2 linked regions of the Homo sapiens genome follow. The protein of the gene in region 1 interacts with the protein of each later gene in a pairwise test. Each region holds a gene or a part of one and is shown on either strand. Other genes may lie near its edges.

Region 1 (10,486 bases):
CACTATGCCCAGCGTTTTTCTTTCTTTTTAAGATTTTTATTTGTATTTTAACTGATGGTAAGAAAACATATAAATTTATGGTGTACAACATGATGTGTTTTTTGCTTTTATTATTTTTAGTTGATACATAATACTTGCAAATATTTATGGGGGACATTGTGATATTTCCATGTATGAATATACTGTGTGATGATCAAATCAGGGTAATTAGCATATCTGTCACCACAGACAAAGTTATCATTACTTTGCCTTGGGAACATTCAAAATATGCTCTTCAAGCTAATTGAAAATATGCAATAAATTATTAGAGTTACCCTACAGTGCCTACAGGTGCTCAACCCATTCCTCCTCTCTAGCTGTGCACTTTTATTTTTATTTTTTTGAGACACGGTCTCACTCTGTTGCCCAGGCTGGGGTGCAGTGGTGCAGTCATGGCTCACTGCAGCCTTGACCTTCCAGGCACAGGTGATCATCTCTTCTCAGCCTCCCGAGTAGCTGGGCCTACAGGTGTACACCACCACGCCGGGTTATTTTTTGTAGAGATGGGGTTACGCCATGTTGCCTAGGCTGGTCTAGAACTCCTGGGCTCAAGTTACCCTCCCGCCTCAGCCTATCAAAGTGCTGGGATTACAGGCGAGAGCCACCATGTCCAGCCTCTAGTTGTGCTTTTGTATCTGTTAACCAGCTTTTGTCTATGTCCCTCCTCTTCCCTTCCCAGCCTCAAGTAACCTCTAGTCTACTCTCCACTTCTAGATCAACTTTCCAGCTTCCACATATGAGTGAGAACAGTGCAGTGTTTATCCTTCTGTGCCTGGCCTATTTTACTTAATGTCATCCAAGCTCAGCCATATTGCTGCAAATGGCAGGATTTCCTTCTTTCTTGTGGCTAAATGATGATGTTTTGATATGTGTATGCATTGTGAAATGGCTAAATCAAGCTATTTAACATATACATTACCTCACATACTTATTTTTTGTGATAACACTTAAAATCTACTCTCTTACCTGTTTTCAAGTATACAATATATTGTTATTGATTATAGTTACCATGAGGTACAATAGGTATCTTGACTCTATAGTAAAATTTATATCATTACTTTTAAAAAATAATTGAAGAGAAAGGGGTTTTAATCCCAAGTTCCTACTAGCCTTAAGGCAGGATTCACACAGCATTAATCTCTGTGTGTCCATTGTGCTTTGTACTAATCATTATTACCCAGGGAGCTTTTTTAGAAAAATTGTGCAATGCATAGCAAACAATAATATATATTATATAATTATATTTATTAATATATGATATAGAAGTATGTAATATATAATTACTAATAGTAATATATTACTAATTACTAATTATATATTACATATACAGTTCTATAAACAAAAATATATACTAATATATAATATGTGTGATATAATTATATAATATATATGTGTGATATATATTATATGTATATGTAAAAAAATTTAAAGCCCCTCTTTTCAGCCATGTTGAAGGACTGGCTTCTGGGCAGTATGGAAGCTGGAAGATTTTCTGCACCTCTTATTTCCTCTCCTCCGCTTGGTCCCTCAGCTCTGTAGAGTGGCCCAGGGTTTGTGCATCCCCTCCTCTGGTTGCAGTCTGTGAACAGTTCAGCGAGGGTGAAGCAAGGGCCGTGACTACAGTGGGAGGGGGTGAGCCGGGCTCTGGACAGGAGCCCAGTCTTAGGCTGCTGCTCCAGTGGTACCCAGGCAGGGCTGACAGCCCAGTAGGGAGGGGCCTTTTTTTTTTTTTTTTTTTAATGCCTGTCACCTTTGTCTCCCAGCAACCCAGAAGTCTCTGCCACCCTGGAGGAAAGTGATCCCACTTCTAGGTATCAGTAGCTTAATGGGCTACCCTCTGTGACATTTATTGTTACTCTATAAGTCTGGGTTAAGCAGGGCTAGCCTGTCTGGAGAAGCTCATGATCTCCTTTTAGGCATTATGCCTGCAACTTGAGTAGCTGCCACCGATGAATGGTGGTGCCTGGCTGTGCTTCCATTGCACAAATGCACAAATAGTCAGGTTCCTTCTAGGTATGGGGCCAAGAAAGAAAGCTTGAGCATAGCTGGAGTCCAGACAATGGTGTCCTCTGGCTCAGACAGACATCATTCATTCAGAATCAGCCAAATGACTTCTGATTGCTTGGGATAATGAATGTAATTCAAATTGAGAGAAAATACAGATTTACATAGCAATGCTGTGCTTTCCTTATATGAAACATCAACTACTGCTTCTTACTGCTTTGCTCATCTATGTTTTTTACACCGAGGAGAGACCTTTGTGTTTTTCACTTATGCTTTGAAGTTTCAAATGTTAGGCTTTTGTTTAGAAGCACTTTCTGCATGTGCGTATTCCCTCTGTCAGCCTGCTGGCCATTTATTTGAAAGCAACATCCAGAAGTGACTGGCTGATTAGAAGAAGGGCATCAGTTGATCTTTTTTTGGCGGGGGTTGGGGGACAGGGTCTCACTCTGTCACCCAGGCTGGAATGTAGAGACATGATCTCGGCTCACTGCACCCTCTACCTCCTGGGCTTAAGGGATCCTCCCACCTCAGCCTTCTGAGTGACTAGGACTACAGGCATGTGCCACCACGCCCAACTAATTAAAAAAAATTGTAGAGACAAGGTCTTAACTATGTTGCCCAGGCTGGTCTCAAACTCCTGGGCTCAAGCAATCCTCTTGCCTCAGCCTCTCAAAGTGCTGGGATGACAGGCATGAGCCATTGTGCCTGGCCAGTTGATCTTCTTAAGTGTGAGTAACTAGCTCTTTCTACTCAGCCCGTCTTCATTTTTCTCTTTCTCTTTTTTCAAAATTAAAGTGTATTGGGATTATCTCTACTGTAAAAATAATACTTATTACAGAAAATCCTCATTATCAAAAATAAAAGACATGGGGAAAAATCACCCATCATGTGAAGATTCAGTCTCTGTTAATATTTTTAAGTGTTTCTTTTCTGTCTTTTTTTTTGTGCATTTGAATTTCTTTTTTTTTTTTTTCACAGTTCTGATTAGTTTTTAAGAAAATTATTGTGGTTGAATATACATGGCCTAAAATTTGCCATGTAACCATTTATACATGTACTCTTCAACTGTTTTTAAAGTAGGAACTAGCGCCGGGCCCGGTGGCTCCTGCCTGTAATCCCAGCACTTTGGGAGGCCGAGGCAGGTGGATCACTTGAGGTCAGGAGTTCAAGACCAACTTGGACAATATCGTGAAACCTTGTCTCTACTAAAAGTATTAATACAAAAGTTAGCTAGGCATGGTGGCATGCTCCTGTAATTCCAGCTACTCAGGAGGCTGAGGCAGGAGAATCACTATCCAGCCTAGGCGAGAGAGTGAGACTCCGTCTCAAAAAAATAAAAAATAAATTAAAAAAATAAATAAAGTAGGAACTAATTCCCTGCAAGCAACAGGTTTTTTCTTCTCATGTGTCTTCAACTTCGTTTTCTTTCCACATCAGAACTGAAAAGTCAGAAGTGTGGTCACTGTTAACTGGTACCTGCCTGCACGTACTGGTCTTCTGTTTTCTCTGTAGTACGACATTGCCTTGGCAGCTGAATTTGTATCACTCCAGCGAGCTCCCTGCCAGATGGTAGCAATAGTTCAGAGCCGCTATAAATGTGTTTTCTGAGAGTTCTGTGAATGGCTTATTGACTACTGAGCAACTTCAGGCTCCTTCTGTCCTATATTCTTTCTGAATGAAGATTTTGAACCACAGACAAAACAGTGCAGTTTTTCACACAGTATCATAATGATTTCCTCACGTCTCTTCTTAGGGTACTTGTAATTTTTAATGAAGTTAGAGGATACAGTATATAGCCCAGACTATTTAAGCTCAGAGAGTGAAATTGTAAACACTCTGCTACTGCAGTGGGGATGTATTTTTGGTCAGAGGCCCATCCAAAGATTCTTTAAAGAATAATTCACAATTTTGATTAGTTGCTGTTTCTTTAGATGACTTCGTGTATGTGTTTTGCTTTTCCTTCTGTTCCAGGGCCACCACTGCCCAGTTCGGGAAATGAGCAGCACTCATCAGCCTCCATCTTCGAGCACGTGGACAGGATCTCCCGCCCCCCGGAGGCTAGCCGGCGGGTCCCCAGTAAGATCCAGCTTATCGCCATGCAGCCGATCCCGGCACCTCCCGTCCAGCGCCCCTCCCCAGCCGACCGAGTGGCGGAAAGCAATAAAATCAACAAAGAGGTATTTGCTTTTATTTAAAAGTCTGTTACTTAAAAAACTCGGCTAAGCCCGGTGGCTTATGCCTGTAATCCCAGCACTTGGGGGGGCCAAGGCAGGCAGATCGCCTGAGGTCGGGAGTTTGAGACCAGCCTGGCCAACATGGTGAAACGCCATCTCTACTAAAAATACAAAATTAGCTGGGCGTGGTGGCGGGTTCCTGTAATCCCAGCTGCTCAGGAGGCTGAGGCAGGAGAATCACTTGAACCCGGGAGGGGGAGTTTGCACTGAGCCGGGATCTCGCCACTGCACTCCAGCCTGGTTGACAGAGTGAGACTCCATCTCAAAACAAAAACAAAAACAAAAAAAACTCACACACTTATTGGGTCTGTGTTTGAAAATGAGTGCAAGGTACAGTGTCAACTAGTTACTGAAGGCATAAGCTGCTGACAAGGATTCTTAATGTAAAACATCACGCTTGTTGGAGATCAGATACTGTGCATGGACACTCTGGGGCGCATTGGCAGACATGCAGAAAAGTGTTAGTGCGGCCGACCAGGGGCTGCCCTCCTCAGAAAGAGCCACTTCAGCTTCTGATCCTCCTCACGCTTCAACGCAGTTCAGGTTTCCGTCTTTGGGGATACCACTCTGGGGGCAGGGGGTCTCATGTCAGGTAACTTGTTTTGGTGACACTAGGTAATTATCCTCTTTATATCTGTCAGTCCTATTTATTAAAGATCTCTAAAGGAGGAAAATATTCTTTTCTGGTTATCAGATGTCTCTTTAAAGTTGTCATTGGCCGATTTCCAAGGTTCGAGTGACTTTTTTTCCCTGCTTTGGGGGATGGTGACAAGACTCCAGTGCACCACACAGTGCTTGAGGGTAAAGCTCGTGGGATGGCAGGGTCTCTGCTCCTCCCTGGTCTGTGCCTGTCGCTCTCTCGGTGACTCCGTGGAGCTTACAGACAGCAAGTTAAGTGTGGGCCAGAGGAGAGGAGCATAGCAGGAAGGCGCTCCTAGAAGGCTTTGCTGGCTGGGCATGGTGGCTCACACCTGTAATCCCAGCACTTTGGGAGCTTGATGTGGGCGTATCATTTCAGGTCAGGAGTTCGAGACCAGCCTGGCCAACATAGAGAAACCCCATCTCTACTAAAAGTACAAAAAATGAACTGGGCATGATGGTGCGTGTCTGTAATCCCAGCTACTCGGCAGGCTGAGACAGGAGAATCACTTGAACCCGGGAAGTGGAGGTTGCAGCGAGCTGAGATCATGCCATTGCACTCCAGCCTGGGCAACAGAGTGAGACTCTGTCTCAAATAAATAAATAAACATAAAAATAAATAAAGACTTTGCGAAGTGTGTGTCCCAGAAGCTTCCCGGGACCTCTATGGCTGTCTTTCTCTCCCTCACCCTTCCTCAGATTCAGACCGCGCTGCGGCACAAGTCTGAGATCGAGCACCATCGCAACAAGATCCGCCTGCGCGCCAAGCGCCGCGGGCACTACGAGTTCCCGGTGGTAGACGACCTGTCCTCGGGCGACACTAAGGAGCGACACCGGGTGTACCGCAGGGCACAGATGCAGATCGACAAGATCCTGGACCCCACGGCCAGCGTGCCCTCCGTGTTCATAGAGCCCAGGAAGAGGTGGGCTGGGGCTCTGCGCTAGGCGGTGGGGCGGGCGCGCAGAGGTGCTGCGGGGGGCACAGGAGCAGGACAGGAGCCCCTCTGCTACTGCAGGGCCTGTGACAGAAGGACCCCATCCGTGTTCACGTGGAGGTCTCTGAAGACAGTTGAAGGGGCTCATGCACAGAAGGATGTGGAGGCCACTCGGAAGGCTTACCCTGGCTGAGGGTCACCTTAGTGTGGGAGGCGTTGGCTTTGTTCTCAACTCTGCCCCTCTGCCTGCCTCGGGGCATTTCCTGGGGCTTAATCTGTCTCTTCCAATTCAGCCTGTCTAAAACTGCACTCACCCTTTCCTTCCCACACTGGCTCCTTCTGTGGTGTCCTTGGCTCTTCCTCACCTCCCACTCTGTCACCTCCAATATTTTCATCTCCCGGAGCCACCCAGGCTGGCACCCAGCAGATCTTCGTTGGTTTTCTCACAGCTGCCTGCAGGGTCTGGGGTCTTACCTTCCCCTGGTCTCCCAGACTCCCGTCCCCGACATAGATGCGTTTTCCTTAAACACGGCTCTCATGTATGTCTTTCTCTACTCAAAACCTGAGGTGGCTCTTATTGCCTGCCAGGTGGGTCCTGTGCTCCCGTCGCAGGCCGGCCCTGCCCCTCCACTCCAGCTCTTTTTCACGGGTCAGCCACACGGACAGAACTGCCACCCAGGAGACGGCCTGGTAGCCCCTGAACATTCACCTGCCTGCCGTTTCTGCCCCTGGCACCTGCTTCCCACATCCTCCCTGGCTTCAGGTCCCATTCACTCTTCAAGACCTAGTTCTGGGCCAGGCGTGGTGGCTCACGCCTATAATTCCAGCACTTTGGGAGGCCAAGGCAGGCGGATCACGAGGTCAGGAGTTAGAAGTTCAACACCAGCCTGGCCAATATGGTGAAACCCCGTCTCTACTAAAGATACAAAAATTAATTGGGCGTGGTGGCAGGCGCCTGTAATCCCAGCTACTCAGGAGGCTGAGGCAGGAGAATTGTTTCAACCTGGGAAGTGGAGGTTGCAGTGAGCCGAGATCACGCCATTGCACTCCACCCTGGGCGACGGTATGAGACTACATCTCAAAAAAAGAATAATAAAATAAAAAAGACCTAGTTCTAGCCCCATGGGACTAATAGCTCCCACTGACTTCTTTTCTGAATGTCATGATTACAAATGGCTTTATATCATTCTGTGTTGCTTCATGTGGGTTAATAGGTCTGTTTAGGTATGCTCTGAGCTTCCTTAGAGCAGAGACTGTCTCGTACATGGCGTTTATATCCTATGGGGTGTTTCCAGGGGTAGCACATCCTAGGTACTCAGGGTACTTAGTGTTTAGTTGGTAAGTCAGTGGCAAAAAGGGTGATTTCCTACGAAGATAATTTCTCTTTTTCCTGGCAGCTCACGGATAAAACGTTCTCCCAAGCCTCGCCGGAAACACCAGGTCAACGGCTGTCCTGCCGACGCTGAGAAGGACCGGCTCATCACCACAGACAGCGATGGCACCTACAGGAGGCCCCCCGGCGTCCACAACTCAGCCTACATCGGATGCCCAGTGCGTGCCACCGACTCCAGTTTCTGGAACTCGGGTGGGGCGGCTCCTAGAAAGATGCGCTGAAAGGGGAGGAGAAGCAGCAGCACTGGCTGCCGCCCTGTGTGGTATCAGTGCCTGATGCCTGATGGCTGATGCACCAGGGCCCTCTAGGTCATGAAGTGGGTGGGGTGGGGTGCCACCCCTTCTGAGGGGAGACTTGAGTGCTGTCAGCCAGGGTGCTGCCGAGTGCCACCTCTGGAAACACACTCCGTGTTTTTCCTCTCTATACGTAAGCCCCGTTCTCTCAGACTTCACAGTGGGACTTTTTTCGAGGTTAACTGGAAAACAGAGAGAGAGAGAAATATCCTCAAGGTTTTTTTCCTTCTCCCTAGTCAGAGGGTTATTTGGTTTTGTTGTTTATTTTTATTATTTTTTTTTTTTGGGACAGGGTCTTACTCTGTTGCCCAGGCTGGAGTGCAGTGGTGTGATCCAGGCTCACTGTAGCCTCAGCCTCCTGGGCTCAAGTAATTTTCCCACCTCAGTCTGCTGAGTAGCTAGGACCATAGGCATATGCCACCATGCCCAGCTAATTTTAAAAATTTTTGTAGAGATGGGGTCTCAGCATGTTGCCCAGGCTGGTCTCAAACTCCTGACCTCAAGTGATCCTCCCGCCTTGGCCTCCCACAGTGCTAGGATTACAGGTATGAGGGCATGACCCTGTGATCAAGAGTCTCATACTCTACTGACTGAGCTAGCCTGGCTGGGTTTCCTAATGAGAGGAGGGATATTTAGGGTTTTATTTCCCTGTACTGTCCTTGGAGTGCTAAGAAGATAGCGTATTTGCTTATATATATTTTGCTTTTATGGGAGAAAGAGGTTAATGGAAATTAAGAAATAATGAGTGGTGGCTCAGACCTGTAATGCCAGCACTTTGGGAGGCTGAGGTGGATGGATCGCTTGAGCCCAGGTGTTGGAGACCAGCCTGGGCAATATAGCGAAACCCCGTCTCTCCAAAAAATACAGAAATTAGCCAGGCGTGGTGGTGCATGCCTGTAATCCCAGCTACTTGGGAGGCTGAGGTGGGAGAATCGCTTCAGCCCAGGAGGTCGAGGCTGCAGTGAGCTTTGATCGCACCACTGCACTCCAGCCTGGGTGACAGAGCAAAACCCTGTCTCTAAATAAATAAATAAGGGATTATTTTTTTCCAAAGTAAAAGAGGTCCAGACAGATTTGCTTGAAGTGTTAAAGGCAGTTATTGATAGCGTAAGATGCATACACACAGACTGCATTGAGTAGGGGAGAGAGAACCAGCCTCACTTAACCCATGAGAAATACAGACACAAAGATACCCGAAGACAGAGAGGGCGAGCCAGGTGCCGCTAACTCCGGCAGCACTGGGAAACACAGGGCGTCCTAAACTCCATACCAGGAGAGCCCTGCCTTGCTGCAGCAGGCCCCTTTCACCTCCTGGAGGCACTCACAGAGCCAGCCTGGTTTAGAGACACGTTAGCAAAAAGCACAGCCTTTGAGAAGGGATTTGCGATGGATGTGATCGCTTTAGATAGACCTTATGCAACCAGCCATTTCTTAGTTGAGGTTTGTATTTTTCTCCTAAATTATATAAATAACAAGCACTTAAATAGGCTAAATATAATTACACAAATGTGCAAACATTATACTGGGATGGGGCCTAAATACAACTGAATTATGATCATCTGAAAGAATGAGACTTTTCCTTAGGAACTTACGGTATTTCTAGGGTCTTAAAGACCGACCTTCTTGATCTACTCATGGGGATCAGTGCGATTTCAGAGTTAGGCTGTCTGTAAATGAAACTACTGTCTTCCTCAGTACGAGGAATTGAGTAGTTCCTGTTACTTTCTAAATGTGGTGCATGGCTGCTCTTACAGTAGGTGGTGCTCTTGTGCTGTGTTGGGTTCTGGGGGTATTTGGGCATCTGTGGGGTTTGGCTTGATCTGGGGAGGGCTCCCCAGGGTTGTCACCCGGAGCTTTTGTAAACTGTGCCAAGTGGAGACTTGCTGTGGTGTGAAACAGATAGAAGGGGCAGCATCCCTTCTTGTCCCTTCACTTCTCCAGCCAACCTGGGCTCCTCTCTCAAAGGAATTTGTGGGGAACCCTCTCAGTCCCCCTCTCTTTGATTTTTTTAAATGATTGAGTTTTGTATGGGGAGGAACCTGTCTTCTCCTGGCTGTCTTCATTTGCCTGCTTCAGTGACTCTAGATCAGCCTTCTTTTGCGGTAGCTTTGCAGCATCGTTTTCTTCCTTTTTTCCTTAGCAGAGAGTGCAGGGATTCCTCCTCCTGTGGGTGCAGAGCAGCCTCTTCCTGGAAGACACCACCCCAGAGGCTGCTTGCCTTCAGTGGCTCCTTTTTTAAAAGATTGCCCCAAAATAAAAATCTTCCTCAGATTTTGAATTCTGAAACACTTTAAAAGATAATGCCTGTCTCAGAACTCATCTTTTCTTAGGTAGTTTATCTTTTTTTCCCTCAACTTGTATTTTAGAATCAGTGGTACATGTACAGGGTTTTTTTTTTTCATCTTCAAGCCTATACTAGGGAAGTACTATGTGTTTTTGAATTACCTTGAATTTTCCACTTTCCCCTCAAAAATATCTTCTCCTTGAGCGGTGTGTTCTCCTAAGGCCAAGAGAAATATTCCTTGGTTCCTTGTAATAAGGGTGACCATTATAATTCAGGCCTTGGTAGAAATCCAGCCAGCTGCTTGTTCTTGTAAGTAACTTTTTTTTTTTGAGACACTCCAGCTCTGTTGCCCAGGCTGGAGTGCAGTGGTGCAATCACGGCTCACTGCAGCTTCAACCTCCCCAAGCTCAGGTGATCCTCCCACCTAAGCCTCCCAAGTAGCTGGGATTACAGGCACATGCCACCTTGCCTGGCTAATTTTTGTATTTTTAGTAGAGATGGGCTTTCACCTTGTTGCCTAGGCTGGTCTCAGACTCCTGGGCTCAGCGATCCTCCTGCCTTGGCCTCCCACATTTCTGGGATTATAGACATGAGCCACCAAACCTGGCCTAAATAGAGTTTTATTGCAACACAACCGCACCCATTTGTTGGCTTGATATCAATGA
Region 2 (7,000 bases), on another chromosome or scaffold:
AGGCCCAGGCGAGAAACACCTTACCTGGCAGGCATTGTAAAGGAGCTGATGTTCGAACTTCTTGATCCCAAGAATGTTCTGGAACATCTCATAGAGTTGCTCCTTGCTCAGAATCAGCTCGGAGGCTGCGCTGGCTGTCATCCGGGCCTGCTGCTTCCGCGGGTCCTCTTCTCCACGGTAGATGGCATCAAATTTGGCCATCCAGGAGCTCAGCACAGTCTCCTTGCTGAGGCCGTCAATCTCAGGCAGGCTGCGCACTCTCTTCTCAATGTGCTTCTTGAAGACCTCCCGGGAGTCGTTGGCGGAACAGCCTCCACTCTGAACCATGCGGGCCACACGGTCGCTCTTCAGGAACACCTGAGCAAGAACAAGGCCAGGAAAGACAGTAGGAGAGTTTACCACAGAGGTACCAGTTCCCTGGGGCTGGACACTGGGCCAGTCCACCTCACGTGCATCCCAGGAGGAACCACTGTGGGTCTCACCCTGCCCCACCACCTCCTGGCTGTGCAAACTCAGAGTAGTCTCTTACACATTCTGCTTCTGTGTCCACATCTGTAAGATGAGAATAACAATTGTACTTACCAGGTTGGTGCAAGGATTAAATGAGATGATACTATCATGAGAGGCAGCACATGGTATACAGACCTGTGCCCGGGCTGCATAGGTTCTCTGCCCCTTAGTGGCTGTGGGACTTTGGGCAAGTTAACCTCTTTGTACCTCAGTGTTTCCATTTATAAAATGGGGATAATAGTATTTATTTAATGTTTAATTTCTTTTTGAGATAGTCTTGCTCTGTCACCTAGGCTGGACTATAGTGACAATCACAGCTCACTGTAACCTCCACCTCCCAGGCTCAAGCGACCTCCAGCTTCAGCCTCCTGAGTAGCTGGGACTAAGTGCATGCCACCACACCTGGCTATTTATTTATTTATTTATTTATTTTGTATTTTTGGTACATACAGGGTTTCACCATGTTGCCCAGGCTGGTCTCAAACTCTTGGGCTCAAGCAACCCATCCACCTCGGCCTCCAAAAGTGCTGGGATTACAGGCATGAGTCAATGCACCCAGAATTTAATTTTTTATTTTAAATAGAGGCAGGACTTTGCTCTGTTATGTAAGCCAGACTTCAGTAGTGATCACGATGCACTGCAGCCTCAAACTCCTGGGCTCAAGCCATCCTCCTGCCTCAGCCCCTCAAGTAACTGGGACTATAGGTGTGTGCCAATATGCCTCGATAATTTTTTAAACTTTTTGTAGAGACAGGGTCTTGCTGTGTTGCCTAGGCCAGTATGTATTTTAAAATGAGGATTAAATGTGTTAATGTGTAAAACACACATAAAATAGTGCCTGGCCCATGTTACACTTGTTGCTGTTATTATTATTATATGTAAAGTGCCTGGCATGATATCAGGCACATAGCATTAAACATTAACCACTATTTGTACCTCCTTTTATCCCTTCAATGATACTTTTAATTGAAAGTATACAAGTATCAGGTAAACATATATTTAATTTTCTCTCTTCCTTCCTGAAATGTAAACTCTACTTGGGCAAGGAACGTGTCCTTCTTGTTCCTCACAATGTCTTCAGGTCCTAGAATGTCTTCAGCACCTGACACTTTAAAAGTGAATTAACAATGAATATAGGTGTTAGGTTAAGTTTATTTTGTAGATGAAAAACTGAGACTTCAGAGAGGGGAAGGGACTTCCTTTTGGTAGCTCAAATTGTCTGACTACCAATGGGTAGTCTTTTTACTTCACCCGGGTTCCTTCCTTCCCTGCAGGGTTCTCCTGCTTGATGAAAACCTCTCCCCCCTGGTGGAAAATCCCTGGTTGGTCTGCTGGTGCTACCTGGTTGAGTCCTGGGACCAAGACTTCTTCTATTAAGAAAGTCTTATTTTTGCTCCACTGCCCACCATTCGGAAGCTTACATGAGCTACATGGTTCTGGGGTGTAATACAAGGCAGTGAAGCCGCCGCTTCATATTCACGGAGAGGAAGCATCTGACACGTTTGAGCTGCGTCCTGGTCACACTTCAGAAGGTGCATAAATATCCTTCAAGAGGCAGAGCAAATGTTCATTCCCCTGTCAGATTTCAGGAAATGCACTTGTTGGCCATGAGACAGCACTGCCTGGGGGCATCTCATTGCCTCATGCTTCATCACAAAGCGTTTCTGGGGTGGAGAGATGTTTTTTTTTAAAAAGGCTCCGGTTTATTGTTGACTTTAATGAACTAATTTAGAAAGGATGGCTGAGGGTTTGCCTCACAGGGTAGAGGCCATGGCCTGCTTCCTTATGAGTGGGAACTGGTACTCAGATGAGACCTTAGAGTTAATTTGAAAATTAATTATAGACAAAATAGTTTCAAATGAATCCTCAGGCCTTATGAGCCTTAATGAGCTAAATAATTCATCTGCAAACCTGTAACACTTAATGGGGATGGTTTCTCCATCTAACCAACACATTATAGATCTCAAATACCAGTGTTTTGAGGCTAGTGGAGGAAGTCTCTGGAAAGGCAATGGAGCATTGTGGCAGGAGCTGTAACTCATGATCTCAGGCCAGGTCTGCCTCTAACTTGCTGTGTGACCTTGAGTAAATCATCTCCCCTCTCTGATTCTCTAATTTCTTTTTCTTTTTCTTTTTTTTTTTTTTGAGACAGAATCTCACTTTGTTGCCCAGGCTGAAGTACAGTGGTGCGATCTTGGCTCACTCAACCTCTGCCTCCTGGGTTCAAGCGATTCTCCTGCCTCAGACTCCCAAGTAGATGGGATTACAGGCATCTGCCACCATCCCCAGCTAATTTTTGTATCATTATTATGTTTTTAGTAGTAGTGACGGGGTTTCTCCATGTAGGCCAGGCTGGTCTCCAATTCCTGACCTCAAGTGATACACCCGCCTGGGCTTCCCAAAGAGTTGGGATTACAGGCGTGAGCCACCATGCCTGGCCTGATTCTCCAATTTCTTATCCATACACCAAAGGAATTGAACAATAAGGTTTGGGGCTATCCTTTTAACTGTAATGATTATAAACTTTTCCATGAACCCATTCATCCTTTCTTTGGTTACTCTCTAGGTGGAAGACACTGTACCAGGTGTCAGGAATACAACGGTGAGGAAGACACAGATTTAGCTCTCATGGAGTCCAACTGACATAATCCTAATAATGCCATGCAAATATGATTACGATCTGGAACAAGTGCTATCAAGACAAGGGTCCACAAGAACCTATAGCTAGGAATCTATTCTAATATGTGGTCAAGAAAGCCTTCCTGAAAGAAAACACCTTTGAGATGATGCATGAAAGATGGATAGGTGAATGGAGAGCTGTAATTTATTTTAGAGAGAAGGAACAATACGTGTGAAGACCCCAAGTGCCTGAAGAAATAAGGAGGAGTCAGTGTGGCTGTGGCAATGAGGGCTGGGGGTGACAGATGTAAGATGGGCAGGGAGGGGCCAGAGAGTCCAGGGAGGCATTGAGAAGGAGGAGGTATTCAGGAGGAGGAGGGGATTAGGGTTGTTGGTCTTCATTTTAAGGGCATTGGAAAGCCATTGAAAGTTTTAAGCTGGGACACGGCACAAACCAGTTCACATTCTTTGGCTTTAATGTGGAAAAGAGACTGATGAAGGGAGCCAAGAAAATAGGCAGGGAGGCCAGTTGAGAGGTGCTTGTACGAGACCGGGTGAGTGTGATGGCAGTGGGGACACTAAGGGGTTAAGCCTTTGTTGTCAGTGCTAATAAACATAAGGGGTGACTTGAAAACATTCAATCAACAATGAAGCTATATTCTCCTCTACATCTATGCACATTAGTATCCCACAAACCCGAAATGGGCCTCAGTTATAAGCTCTCAGCCCCAGATTCTTTTTTCCTAAAGCCCTTCCACAGCTGCCATCTGCCACTGTTTTTGTGACTGTTTGGTAAATATCTGATCTCCAGCTAGACTATAAGTTCCAGGGAGGCAGGGTAGTCGTTGTTTGTTTCTATTACTGCTTCTTAGTGCCTGAGACAGTGCCTGGCATGTAGCTGGTGCTCAGTAAATATTTGTGGAATGAGTGAATGAACTATAAGAGCAAAGCAGACTCCTCTAGCAGGAAAAATATGGAGCGAGACTATGTCTGGATTGGGGCGAGAAGGTCAACGGGAAACCAGCACACGGTATATTGGTCTCTTAAAACAAGAGACTTAGGCTAGATTTTCCATGGGGCCTGATAACAAGGGGTAAGAAATAAAGATGTTGGCACTTGGGTCCCAGCTGGTGTAACTGGTTGAGTGATGTATTAGTCTGTTCTCACGCAGCTAATAAAGACATACCCAAGACTGGGTAATTTGTGAAGGAAAGAGATTTAATGGATTCACAGTTCCACATGGCTGGGGAGGCCTCACAATCATGGTGGAAGTCAAGGGAGGAGCAAAGGCACGTCTTATGTGGCATGGCAGCAGGCAAGAGAGCATGTGCATGGGAACTCGCCTTTATAAAACCATCAGATATCTTGAGACTTATTCACTATCAAGAGAACAGCATGGGAAAGACCTGCTCCCATGATTCAATTACCTCTCACTGGGTACCCCCATGACACGTGGGAATTATGGGAGCTACAATTCAAGATGAGATTTGAGTGGGGACAAAGCCAAACCATATCAGGTGAACCCTGAATCCTGGGCATAGCATCTGCTTCACTAGCCCCTTCCTTTGTACATAGTAGCTACTCAATAAATACTTCTGAATTACCAGTGGAAGACAAGTCACCTAACCTCCATCAGTCTCACTCTCCTTCATGGTAAACAATGAAGGAATCCAGCCTTTCTTCTTTGCTGAGGATCAAACTGAGAAGACTTTGAAAAGTGGAGGGATCTATCTGTCCTGTGTTAAGATACAACTGCCAGATCCCAGAAAGAGGAGAGATGAGTGGAATGATAAGAACATGGAGGAAAGAGGCCAAAGACTGGGGAGACAGTAAAGATGAATTGCCCAATGGAGACAAGACAGCCATGAGGAGAGAAGGTGGCAGCAGGAAACTATTTCTACAGGCACATCATCTGTCTTGGCTTCTCAGTCTGACAAAGAGGAAGTGGGGCCTGGGCCAGCCTCACCCTATAATGAATACAAACACTAAGTACTGATGTGCCTGTGTGTCTCTAAAACAACTATTCAAACTCAATTGTGCTGGGAGCTCTGTCTGTATTTTGTATCCGTGTTTGTTTCTGTTTTTGCTTTTTAGTGGCTGCCACAAGAGACTTTAACCCCAAGCCCAGTTCTATCTGGGCACATCCATAAATCCTCCCTGCTTTTCTGCCAACTTCCAGACAGGTCATAATGAGAGATGGAAGATAAACAAATAAATATGGAATTGTGAAGGACAGTCAATTCAGCAACTCGACCTCATCCATCAGTCCTTCCCTCCATCACCAGAGCCAAGCAACCTCAAGGTCATTTTAGAAACATACAAACACATCAGTACTTAGTGACTGTTCACATTACAGATGAGGTTGGCCTAGCTCCCATTTGCTAGCTGATAAGCTGAGAAGCCACAGCAGATTCATTCCTGTTCTGAAAAAGCATATCCTTTCAATATAAATAAGAAAAACATCTAGATGTTGGAGTAAGTAAGGTTTGCAAGAAACACACACCTCGTTGCTATTAATAAATGGGCACATAAATAATGAAAGGGGTAGACATCATGGTTAGGAGGATGGGCCCTGGTATTAGAACACCTGGGTTCAAATCCTGGCTCTGTTGCTTGCTAGCTTTGCCACCTGAGCAAGTTACTTAATCTTCCTGGGCTTTAATTTCCTCACCTTTAAGATGGGAGTTATAACAACCTTCCTTTGTAGGATTTTGGTGATCCCTGAATCCTGATTCAGTGATATTATGCCTGCAAGTTGGTTAGCCTGTTGCCTACTATTCGGCTAAGAATGTAATACAAGTTAGCTGTTATTTTTAAATAGAATATCATGCAGCCATGAAAAAAGATATATATTTTTTCATTACCATCCAAAGATGTCCATGATATATGGTTATAATGGACCAGAGCCTTCCAATGGCAGGGGTGAGGTGGGATTGGAGGATAGGAACATGGCTCTGGATTTAGAATACCATAGGAAATAAGACAGTTTACTGATGAGAGTATGCCATTTGTGTGACCTTTGGAAAGGTAGGAAGGAGACTGAAAACAACTGTGTTAAATAAAAGAAGTGGGTCCTTAATAGTTTGTGGTAATTTCCCACCTTAATATGCAAGCCAAATAGTTATCTTGACATGCATAGATACATTGAAAGTACCTGGAAAGATAGAAACCAAAGTTTAATTTTGGTTATCTAGGATGATGGGATTGCAAGTATTTTTTAACCATGTAAATGCAGAGATTTTTCTACATTGTCTGTTTTATTTTTATAGTGGGCATGTTTTACTTTCACGGTCATTTGAAACACATCTTTTCTACCTGGAAAAATACAAATTTTACCTTCTTTGAGGCAAGGTGCATTTTCATTTCTAAAATAAAATGTATTTTCAAATCTTAAAAATCTTCTTCACCAAAAAGTAAAGGATTCTGGGCAAAGTTTCAGAAGCAGATCTTGGGCCATGACCTTGTGGTAGGTGGTGCTAGATTAGGAGCAAAAGTACTTTCCCTTTTCTTTTCTATGCCCTTTTCCCCTGCTCCATCTTGCACCTCCCTTCCTCCATGCCCAGGGAGTGAATTGATTCTATCAACTTTCAACTCTCTTCTTCTATTTCTATGCAGCATATGGACACCATACCACCATGCTCATTTCTAACCTTAATATATTAATATATTCTAACCTTAATATATTAATAATGGAACTGTCCAGGTATATATATTCTCATTTAGTCTTGAGAGCAATTAGGCAAGGAAGGTCCTATTAAAGATGAAGCAACTAAGGCTCAGACATAGCTGAGGTCCCAGAGTCAGTGTGTAACAGGACTAGAACTCAACCCACCTCTGTCGGACACAATTTTTATTTTTAATTTATTTAGAG

Evidence for each region.
Region 2: the proteins of KIAA1549 (region 1) and CADPS interact in a two-hybrid assay, tested with the Homo sapiens proteins (one study listed by BioGRID and IntAct).

The regions. Positions count from the first base shown.
Region 1 is NC_000007.14:138,864,891-138,875,376, reverse strand, and holds part of KIAA1549 (UPF0606 protein KIAA1549), read left to right. Parts: intron 1-4,014; coding exon 4,015-4,220; intron 4,221-5,615; coding exon 5,616-5,839; intron 5,840-7,248; coding exon 7,249-7,402; intron 7,403-10,486. UniProt on the Homo sapiens protein: May play a role in photoreceptor function.
Region 2 is NC_000003.12:62,753,417-62,760,416, forward strand, and holds part of CADPS (calcium-dependent secretion activator 1), read right to left. Parts: intron 358-7,000; coding exon 25-357; intron 1-24.